2 separate regions of the Homo sapiens genome follow, and region 1 is linked to region 2. Evidence: fine-mapped expression QTL. A gene starts in region 2. The other region holds a variant in brackets. All regions are shown on one strand. Distances are from middle to middle.

What was found. PIP is the estimated chance that this variant, and not a neighbour inherited with it, causes the effect. A credible set is the group of variants that fine-mapping cannot tell apart.
Region 1: its variant is the best candidate, but not a certain one, in a credible set for the expression of DHX37 in whole blood (TOPMed, PIP 0.67).

What each region holds. Positions count from the first base shown.
Region 1 is chr12:124,945,382-124,950,748 of GRCh38, forward strand. DHX37 (DEAH-box helicase 37) reads right to left here. Exons shown (of 27, transcript NM_032656.4): 22 at 5,309-5,367; 23 at 5,032-5,169; 24 at 4,768-4,862; 25 at 4,605-4,678; 26 at 2,703-2,800; 27 at 1,445-2,506. The coding sequence ends at 2,421. Among named protein-coding and RNA genes, the nearest start is that of TRA-TGC4-1, 8.1 kb to the left of the region's middle. The variant T/C (reference allele first, on the strand shown) is at 2,993.
Region 2 is chr12:124,986,045-124,991,411 of GRCh38, forward strand. DHX37 (DEAH-box helicase 37) reads right to left here and starts at 3,087. Exons shown (of 27, transcript NM_032656.4): 1 at 2,873-3,087; 2 at 52-221. The coding sequence starts at 2,978. RefSeq lists an enhancer at 1,007-1,550 and a silencer at 2,791-3,000.

The DNA.
Region 1 (5,367 bases), 41 kb before region 2:
ATGGAAAATATACATCCACACAAACAAAAACCTGTACATCAATGTTCACAGCAGCTCTATTCACAATAGCCAAAAGACGGAAACAAATAAAAATGTGGTCTATCCATACAATGGGGTATTATCCAGCCATAGGAAGGAATGAAGTACTTCAGGAGCTCAAGACCAGCCTGGGCAACATAGCAAGAGCTGTCGCTACTAAAAATTTTAGCCCAATATGGTGGAGTGTGCCTGTAGTCCCAGCTATTTGGGAGGTAGGAGGATCACTTGAACCCAGGAGATGGAGGCTGCAGTGAACTAGGATCGCACCACTGCACTCCAGCCTGAATGACAGAATAAGATCCTCTTGAAAAAACAAGCAACAAACCAGGCGCGGTGGCTCACACCTGTAATCCCGGCACTTTGGGAGGCGGAGGCAGGTGGATCACGAGGTCAAGAGCTCGAGACCATCCTGGCCAACATGGTGAAACCCCGTCTCTACTAAAAATACAAAAATTAGCTGGGTGTGGTGGCATGTGCCTATAGTCCCGGCTACTCGGGAGGCTGAAGCAGAAGAATCGCTTGAACCTGGGAGGCAGAGGTTGCAGTGAGCCGAGATTGCGCCACTGCAGTCCAGCCTGGTAACAGAGCGAGACTCCGTCTCAAACAAACAAAAGCAGCAAAAGAGATAAATGTCCAGAACGGGCAAATCCAGAGACAGAAAGTGGATTCGTGGGGCTTGGAGCTGGGGAACTGGGAGAAATAGGGGCAGACTGCTGATGGGTACAGGGTATCTTTTTAGAGCTATAAAAATGCTCTGGAATCAGGTCATGGTAACGGTTGCACAACTGTGATACACTAAAAGCAACTGTATACCTTAAAATGGGGAATTTTATGGTGTGCTAATTACATAACATTTTTTAAGAAGAATTGCCTAATTACAACTGTGGATGCTCTGCTGTGGTTGTGGAGTGCAATGAGGAGGCAGGGACGTCCCTGAGGAGGCTGCCCTGGCGCCTGAGACACTGGTGGGAATGACAGCTTCCGCTTTCATCTCAGAATTGCTAGCCCATGTGCGGTGGGATTTTAGGAAAGCTGGAGGTCAGTACTTTCGAGTGGGAAATAGCCCAATTCTACATGTTAGTGAGGAGTTCAAGTCCTCCTCAATCACCGGGCGGGTCAAGCGAAACGTGTCTGCAGGCTGCCCTGGCTCATGGCCCTGCCTTGGGCTCCTGGGGAGGAACATAGAGTGAGAAGGGCCGGGCTGCCATCTCGGCTCTGGGGCAGGTGGGGAGAGGTTGCTGCTTGGGCTTTGAGAGCAGCCAGGGAGGTAAGTAAACCCAGTGAGGAGAGGCCTCCTTAAAGCAGACAGCAGTGCTGGGAAGGCAGGTCGGCCACCAGGCCACGTCCCGGGACAGCACACTGGCCACCTGGGTGTCCTTCCCCAAGTGCATTCCACAACACAATCTGGGTGCAAGGAACATTTTATTCCATAACTGTCTCCACCGAAGCCGCAGAAGCAAAGCCAGGAGCAGAATCCATTCTGCCAGCGCTGGGCTCTGGGGAGACATCTGTGCCCTCACCATGGAGGACAGAAGGCAGGGGCCTCCCGACTCCTTGGTCCTGCCTGGGGTGCTCCTGTCCCTCTTTCTTGCTGGGGGACCTACCCCACCCTCCCCCTCCCACCTCAGCCACAGAGGAACAAGGGAGACAAACTGAGGGCTCTGCAGTCCCCGTTCAAGGCCAACATAATAGTCGTGTGGCCCCAGCCCAGCTAGGCGCATCCTCTGCGGCATGGCAGCGGTGACCAAGCACAGCCAACGTCAGCTCCGCTCCCTGCCGTCTGAGAGCTGACCACAGGCAGATGAGATGCCCACTCCCTGTTGCCATAACACAGGAAAGGCGTTGGCGGCCACCCTCCCAAGAAGGCATGGAGCCTGGGGGCCCCCAGCCAGGCCCCTCAAGGTCAACACAGAGCTCAGTGGCTCACCTAACATCTGGGACGGCTGTGAGGCCAGGGCTGGGCAGCCCTCCCTGACTCTGGAGAGGGAAGAATTGCAGGAAGGAGGCCCTCCACGTGCCTCCTCGGCCTTCTGGCAGGGCGGGCGGGGAAGGGACTGCAGAGATCTCCAGCCCTGCTGCTCCACAGGGGACTAATGTAGTCCAAAGAGCACACTGAACAGAACAGCGTCCAGCACGTGAGATGAAATCATCATCCACCATATAATAAACAGTTCAAAAAGTCACCCCCGGGCCAGATGGCACGGGCGGCAGCACCCTTCATACGGGATCGAGCTCTCATGGATGAGGGTTCCCAGGGCTTGACCCACTTCCTGAGAGCAGGCCACGAAGCCCATGCCAGGTGGTCACGGTCGCACGGTGACAGGCTGCTGCCAGCCCTCCAGTCCCCAAACCAGTCCTCGGCCCTGCAGCCAGGTTTCTGGTCAGTGGACAGTGGTGGGGGGCCAGGCTTTCTCGATATCGGGGTGCATGGCCTGTGGAAGCCACTCACAGTACTCAGCCAGCAGGTCTGCAGGGGAGGGAAGGAGGACAGTGTCAGGGTGACCCTGGGCCCAGGGACTCTCCTCAGGTGGCAAAAAGCTGGCCAGCAGCCGTGGGGCCAGATCCTTCTGCCAAGCCAGGGCTGACCGTGCACAAAGCACAAAGCCCCTGCCTCAGTGACCCCATCCTGTCTACTCCCACCCCCTGGCCCTGGTCAAACTCACATTTGGGGTTTTTCTTCCAAGCAGCCAGCAAGGCTTCATGGCAGTCAGCCTTCTCTGCAACCAGGGCTCGCAGAAGGCTCTCCGTACGGGGCTGCAGCCTGTGGGGCAGGAATGCACGTTGGTGGCAGGCAGCCAGGGCACAGACCGGCTGCTGCTGGGGGCCCGAAAGCAGGGCAGGCATCACCACCCCACCAGCCCCACCCAGGAGGGTGAAGAGCTGGCTGGGCATGGTGACATGCACCTGTAGCCCCAGTTACTCAGGGGGCTGAAGTAGGAGGATCCCTTGAGCC[T/C]GGGAGTTGGAGGCTGCAGTGAACCATGACTGCACCACTGCACTCCAGCCTGGGCAACAGGGCAAGAACTTGTCTCAAAAACAAACAAACTGGCTGAGCGTGGTGGCTCACGCCTGTAATCCCAGCACTTTGGGAAGCTGAGGCAGGTGGATCACCTGAGGCCAGGAGTTCGAGACCAGCCTGGCTAACATGGTGAAACCCTAGCTCTACTAAAAATCCAAAAATATTTGCCGGGCATGGTGGCGGTCACCTGTAATCCCAGCTACTCAGGAGGCTGAGGCAGGAGAATCACTTGAACCCAGGAGGCAGAGGCTGCAGTGAGCCAAGATCACGCCATTGCACTCCAGCCTGGGCAACAAGAACAAAACTCTGTCTCAAACAAACAAGCAAACAAACAAAACTCAAAAGCAAAAAAACATAATTCTCTAGACAGGCCTTCTAAAAAATAAATAATAATAATAAAATAAAAGAGAAGGCAAAGGGTCCCCTTCCCCTAATCATCCCGGGACAGAAGGCTCTAGATCCCACCTCCTCCCATCCACCCTGGCTGCCTCTGGTCCACATTCCTTGCCCACCAAGGCTGCTCTGTGCATGCAACTTGTCTCATCTAGAACCTTCCTCCAGATTTGTGCCCAGCTGCAGCCCTGGCTCCTTTGAATCTGCCCAGTGAGGCTCTCCCCGACCAGCCCAGTCGCACTCCACCCCCTGCCCACCGAGGCCTCACTCATGTCCTGCTCTGTCCCTCTGGGGCCGAGCAACGCTGCTGTGGGACAGAGATCGTGTCTGTATCCCAGCCCCGAGAACATGCCTGGGACAGGGCCACACTGGAAAACGTGAGCTGAGTGACTGACACGGCTCCTGACAGCCCAGCAGCGGGTGCTGTGCCCCACGCCCCATCTCGAGTCCCTGGCACCTGCCTGCACCTTCAGGCCTGCCTCCAGTGCCCCAAGCCCCTGCACCATAGGCCCCACCAGCCCCAGGAAGGGGGAGGTGTCTGTGGGTCTGGACCACAGGCAGGAGGAGAGCAGAAGCAGGAGGCAGAGGGCAAGGGTGAGCCCTGAAGCAGAGGTGGTGGGCGGGATGGGGCAGGGGTCTGCTTAGCTGGGAGGAAGTCCCCAGGGCCAGGAGGGCAGGATGCCTCCCACTGACACCTGGCGGCTCTGTGGGAGCTGCCCAGTGTCTCCCCTATCCCATATTCATGTCCACCCAGAACATCAGCGTGTGACCTTATATGGAAAGAGGGTCACTGCAAATGTCATGAGTTAAGGAGAGGTCATCCTGGAGTAGGGTGGGCCCTGAATACAATGACTGGTGTCCTTATAAGGAGAACACAGGGAGGGAGACTAAAGACACACAGAGAGATGGCCACGTGAAGATGGAGGCAGAGACTGGAGTGATGTGGCCACAAGCCCAGGAGGCCGACAGAGGCAAGACGGACCCTCCCCGAGAGCCGCTGCACAGACCGTGGCTCTGCAGAGCCTTCAGACCTGAGCACAGACTTCTGATGTTTTAAGCCTCCCTGTGTGTGGTGCTTTGTCCTGGCAGCCCCGGGGAGGTCATTCAGGCCTCGGACCCCTCCTGCCCACTGCGAGGCTCCCACCGAAGGCAGTACCTGGCCCACGTCTTCAGCATGGTGCCGGGGCTGGACAGCAGACAGCTCCGGTATGAGGCCAGCTTGCGGAAGACCTGATGAGAGACCACAGGAAGGGGTGAGGCCCGGGCTGCTGCTGCCCACGGTACCCGAGATGAGGGTCTGGAGCCGCTGTGCCACCTACCTGCCCTTCCAGCAGGAACCGGGCAAAGTGCTTGTAGCGGTCAATCCCCTCTGGAAAATCCACCTCGATGGCGGGGAGCGGCCAGCCCACGCGATCTAGAAGGTGGGAGCCAGTGAGACAGGGACCCTCCTGCAGCTGCCCTCCCGAGTCCCATCCCTGCCCCACCCGAGACACACACGTCCGGGGGCAGGGGACAGGACCGTGTGTCCGAGAAGCCCACGGCTGCAGGAGGCTCAGGTTGCCCAGGACACTGCCCCAACTCACAGAACACGCTGGCCCGGTGACACAGCACCCGCCCCCGCTCGGGGCAGTATGTAGGGGCTGGTTCCTCCAGGGGCTTGTCAAACTGGCAGTAAGAGGGCAGCAGGGCCGGGATCCACTGGACCTCCACGCTAGAGACGCCTGGGGGCCGGGGGAGGAAGCTGGGGTTACAGCGGCACCCTCCGTGGGAGGGGCTGCCATGCCTCTGCCCCAGGGTCCCAGCCACACCCCCATTAGCGTCACCATCGGGGGACAAGGGGCTGTCCGCAGGCCTCGGCACCTTTCATGTACATCTTAGTGGTCTCCACGATTTCCTGGTAGACCACAAACTCGGGGAGC
Region 2 (5,367 bases):
CTCTCTCTATGCTGGAGAGCCACTTGCAGACCCTGCCCGAGTGGGGTGTACCTGGCTCTTTTTCTCCTTCTGTTCTAAGATTTTCTGCAGCACTTTCTTCTCCTTCTTGGTCAGAGGCTTCTTCTCCTTCTTCGACAGGGGAGGGGCTTTGGTCTTCTTTTTCTTCTTCCCCGGTAGAACGAGCGCGTTGCTTGCATCAACTCCCTTCAACGTGTCCTTGTCTGAGAGAGCACAGTTATTAAGTCCCCATTCTCCTTGAGGTAGCTCTGGTCCCGCCTCCCACAAGCCCCCTGACTTGCATGGGGGCCTCCTGAGTCTGCACACAGGAACAGGGGGATCTGTGAGCTCAAATCTATTTTCATAACAATACTATGATGTTCTCAAGGCTTGGCGCAGGGGCTCATGCCTGTAATCCCAGCACTTTGGGAGGCTGAGGCAGGTGGCTCACTTGAGGTCAGGAGTTCGAGACCAGCCTGGCCTATGTGGCGAAACCCTGTCTCTACTAAAAATACAAAAATTAGCCAGGTGTGGTGGTGGGTGCCTGCAATCCCAGCTATTTGGGAGGCTGAGACAGGAGAATCTCTTGAAACTGGGAGGTGGAGGTTGCAGTGAGCCGAGATCTTGCCACTGCACTCCAGCCTGGGCGACAGGGTGAGACTCCATCTCAAAAAAAAGAAAACCCCCCAAAAAATACTATGATTTTCTCTTTTTGTTTTTTTGAGACGGTGTCTCACTTTGTCCCCCAGACTAGAGTGCAGTGGCGCAATCTCAGCTCACTTCAACCTCCGCCTCCCAGGTTCCAGCAATTCTCCCGCCTCAGCCTCCCAAGTAGCTGGGATTACAGGCATGTACCACCACGCCCCAGCTAATTTTTGTATTTTTAGTAGAGACGGGGTTTTACCATCTTAGCCAGGCGGTCTCGAACTCCTGACCCCCAAGTGAGCCACCCGCCTCAGCCTCCCAAAGTGTTGGGATTACAGGCGTGAGCCACTGCACCCAGCCTGATGTTCTCCTAAGAGTGTACGGTGGGGCCGGGCGCGGTGGCGCACGCCTGCAATCCCAGCACTTTGGGAAAATCACCTGAGGCCAGGAGTTGGGGACCAGCCTGGCCAACATGGCAAAATCCCGTCTCTACAAAAAATACAAAAACTAGCCAGGTGTGATGGCATGCACCTATAATCCCAGCTACACAGGAGGCTGAGGCACGAGAACTGCTTGAACCCGGGAGGTGGAGGTTGCAGTGAGCAGAGATCACGCCACTGCACTCCAGCCTAGGCGACAGAGCAAGGCTCCATCTCAAATAAATAAATAAATAAAAGAAGGTAATCTGAGTCATGTTCTTATGAGATTCCTCTGGCCCCTGAGAAAGGCAGGGATACATGGAAATGTCCTGTTCTGATGTGAGAAACAACTTTCCCCAAATCTCTGGGTCTGAGAGACCTCAGCCCCTCTGCTCAGGTGGTCCAGTTCCAAGTGTCAGCCCAGTGTCTACGGCTGTCTTTGAGGTGCCATCCTGAATTGTCACTGCCATCATAACGGTTGTCACCTGTCCTGGGACACACCCCACCTCTGTAACCTTTCTTTACTTTTCAAAGCAACATATTTTCCCAAATTACCATCTCCAAAACTCTGATAGGAGGTAAGACGGCTACTACAGGTTAAATATCCCTTTCCAGAAATGCTAGGAACCAGACCTGTTTTAGCTTTAGGAACATCTGTATTCTATTCACTGGTTGAGCATCCCTAATCTAAAAATTTGAAATCTGGAATGCTCCAATGAGCATTTCCTTAAGTGTCATGTTGACACTCAAAAACTTTTGAATTTTGGAGTATTTTGGATTAAGGCTGCTCAACGTGTGCTACTGGTCCCATTCTGCAGATGTGAAAACGAAGGCACAGAGATGTTAGGGGATCTGCCTCAACTCCCAGCCTGTCTGTGGAACTTTTTTTTTTTTTTTTTTTTTTTTGAGATGGAGTCTCGCTCTCTCACCCAGGCTAGAGTACAGTGGTGCGATCTTGGCTCACTGCAACCTCCGTATCCTGGGTTCAAGCCATTCTCCTGCCTCAGCCTCCCAAGTAGCTGGGACTACAGGTGCCCACCACCACGCCTCCTCTGCTCTAAATGCTCCCATGGCTGCCCTCTCCCGTAGAGAAAAAGCCCCAGTCCTCGCCAAGACTGCAGTCCAGGCCCGACCTGCCCTGGCCCCCTGTTTTTTCTCTCATCTCCAGGCAGCCACTCAGGTCTCCTTCAGATCTTGACTCTAACAGAGTGATGTCTTCTCCAGCAACTCTATGGGATGCTGCAACCCACCCAATGGCCTCTTCTGTTTTATCTGCTCACTATAGCCGCATAAATTTCTATATGTTTATTCTTTGCCTGTCTCCTCCTATACAGCAGGTAAACTCAGGGATTTTCTAAAAATCTCCCTTTCTGCTATGTCTCCAGTGCCTAGAATAGTGCCTGGCATGTAATAAGGGCTACTCCTAAAAAGGGGTCTGAGAGAAATGTCAGCCAGCCTGGAGCTGAGCAGACAAGACTGGGCTGAAAATACACATTTGGGGGTCGCTGGAGATTATAAAGAGATTATAATCGAAGTCATGGGAAGGGATGGAACTACTCCTGTTTTTTTTGCCAAATTCTCCATGTTACTATTTGAGGGCGAGAGAAATCCCGGGTATTCCATATACACTGTTAAAACTAGGCTGTCACTAAGCCCCTCTCCTTTGGATCATCTGGAATGGGGGGACCCATTCCCCCATTCCAGATGATCCATCCCACCCCTCTGGGATCCCCACCCGAGAGTCCTGAAGGCAGGGCACAGGCCGCCCTGGGAAATCTCCGAAATCCAGCCCCGGTCCGGGGATGTCTTACCCTCCAGTTCCAGCTGCACGGGGGGCGGCTCGGGGGGGCCCTTCGAGGGTCCGGGGCCCGCCTGCTGGCGCCCCTTGATGTTGTAGCGCCGGCGCAGCTTCCCCATGGCGACTAGGCCAGGGTGGGCGCTCCAGCGGCCGGACCAGCAGAGCAATCCGAAACCCAGCCCACGTGGGTTCCCAGACCACCAACTCCGGCCGTGAGACTTCCGGGTTGTGTTATCGCGAGAACTGTAACTGACTTTGCCGCTGAGGGGCGGGGTTGCAAGAGAAACCCAGCGAAGAGGAGAGGCGGAGCCGGGCCGGGCAGGGGGCGGGACTATTTAGAGAAGTAGGCGGGGCCTGAGGTCCCAGCGGAGGCCGGAGTTTAAGTCCTGGGCTGTTCTCGCTTGGGGTAGTCTGGGTTTAAATATGAATTATATCTACTGATACTAATTTGGCTTCTTGGGAGTGGAAGTGTTTTGCCACCTTTTAAAATATACCCCGCCCCCAGTACTCCAAACTTCTTCCCCCCAACCCTGGTTTGCGCATCTGTATTTTCTGATATTCCTACAAGAAACGTATTAGTCGTGTACTTTTAAAAAGGCACCAAATATTTCCATCACAGGGATAGATGGAAGATCTAAAAGGAGGCCTCTACGGGCGCGGTGGCTCACGCCTGTAATCCCAGCACTTTTGGAGGCCGAGGCGGGCGGATCACGAGGTCAGGATTTCAAGACCAGCCTGGCCAAGATGGTGAAACCCCCGTCTCTACCAAAAATACAAAAAAAATTTAGCTAGGCCTGGTGGCAGGCGTCTGTAATCCCAGCTACTTGGGAGGCTGAGGCAGAGAATTGATTGAACCCGGGAGGTGGACGTTGCAGTGAGCCGAGACTGCACCACTGCACTTCAGCCTGGGCAACAGAGCTAGACTCTGTCTCAAAAAAAAAAAAATAAAGTTGTCTATTACATAACTTTAAATTCCCATTACCGCATCACATTGTAACACACTGGGAAACAATGCATTATTATTATTATTGAGACAAGGTCTGGCTTTGTTGCCCAGGCTGGAGTGTAGTGGAGCAATCTCGGCTCACTGCAACCTCTGCCTCCCGGGTTTAAACGATTCTCCTGCCTCAGCCTTCCGAGTAGCTGGGACTACAGGTGCCCGCCACCACCCCCAGCTAGTTTTTGTATTTTAGTAGAGACGGAGTTTCACCATGTTGGCCAGGCTGGTCTCAAACTCCTGACCTCGTGATCTGCCTGCCTGGGCCTCCCAAAGTGCTGGGATTACAGGCATGAGCCACCGCGCCCGACTTTTTTTTTTTTTTTTTTAAGAGATGAGATCTCGCCCTGTGGGCCAGGCCAGAGTGCAGTGGTGCAATCACCACTCGCTGCAGCCTTGACCTGTCCTCCCACCTCAGCCTCCTGAGTAGTTATGACTACAGGCACACACCACCACGACGGGCTAATTTTTCTATTTTTTTGTAGAGATGGTGTCTCCCTATGTTGCTTAGACTGGTCTCAAAATTCTGGGCTCAAGGGATCCGTTTGTCTCGGCCTCCCAAAGTGCCGGAATTACAGGCATAAGCCACTGTGAAGGCCTTAATGAATGACGTTTAAAAAAATCATAATTAGCGTATCAAATCTATGGGGTTTTTTGTTTGTTTGCTTGTTTTTGTTTTTTTGAGACAGAACTCTCCCTCTGACGCCCAGGCTGGAGTGTAGTGGAGCAGTCTCGGCTCACTGCAACCTCCACCTCTCGGGTTCAAGCGATTCTCCTGTCTCAGCCTTCCAAGTAGCTGGGATTACAGGCACCCACCAAGATGCCCATCTAATTTTTGTATTTTTAGTAGAGATGGGGTCTCACCATGTTGGCCAGGATGGTCTCAAACTCCTGACATCAAGTGATCGGCCCACCTTGGCCTCTCAAAATGATGAGATTACGGGCCTGAGCCACTGCACCCAGGCTCAAATCTGTGTTTTTATGGATTTTGTTGCTCAGGATGATAGTGATCTAAAGTTTCTTCTTTAAATATGTTTATTTAAATAAATTAAAAGTTTAAGAAACGTTTAAAAAATGTTAAGTAGGTAGTAGTACACTTGCCTATATTTCCTTCTAAAATATAATATATCAGTGAATTACCTTCCAGAAGGTATAGACCATTCTAGACAGCAAGAAGAAGGCAGATACATAACAGCATGGATGGATCTCACAAATATAAAGTTGAACAAAAGCTGGGCGTGGTGGCTCACGCCTGTAATTCCAGCACTTTGGGAGGCCAAGGCAGGCGGATCACCTGAGGTCAGGAGTTTGAGACCAGCCTGGCCAACATGGCGAAACCTGTCTCCACTAAAAATACAAACATTAGCCGGGTGTGGTGGCGCGTGCCTATAGTCCCAGCTACACGGAAGGCTGAGGCAGGAGAATCGCTTGAACCCCGGAGGCGGAGGTTGCAGTGAGCCGAGATCATGCCACTGCACTCCAGCCTGGGCAACAGAGCAAGACTCCGTCTC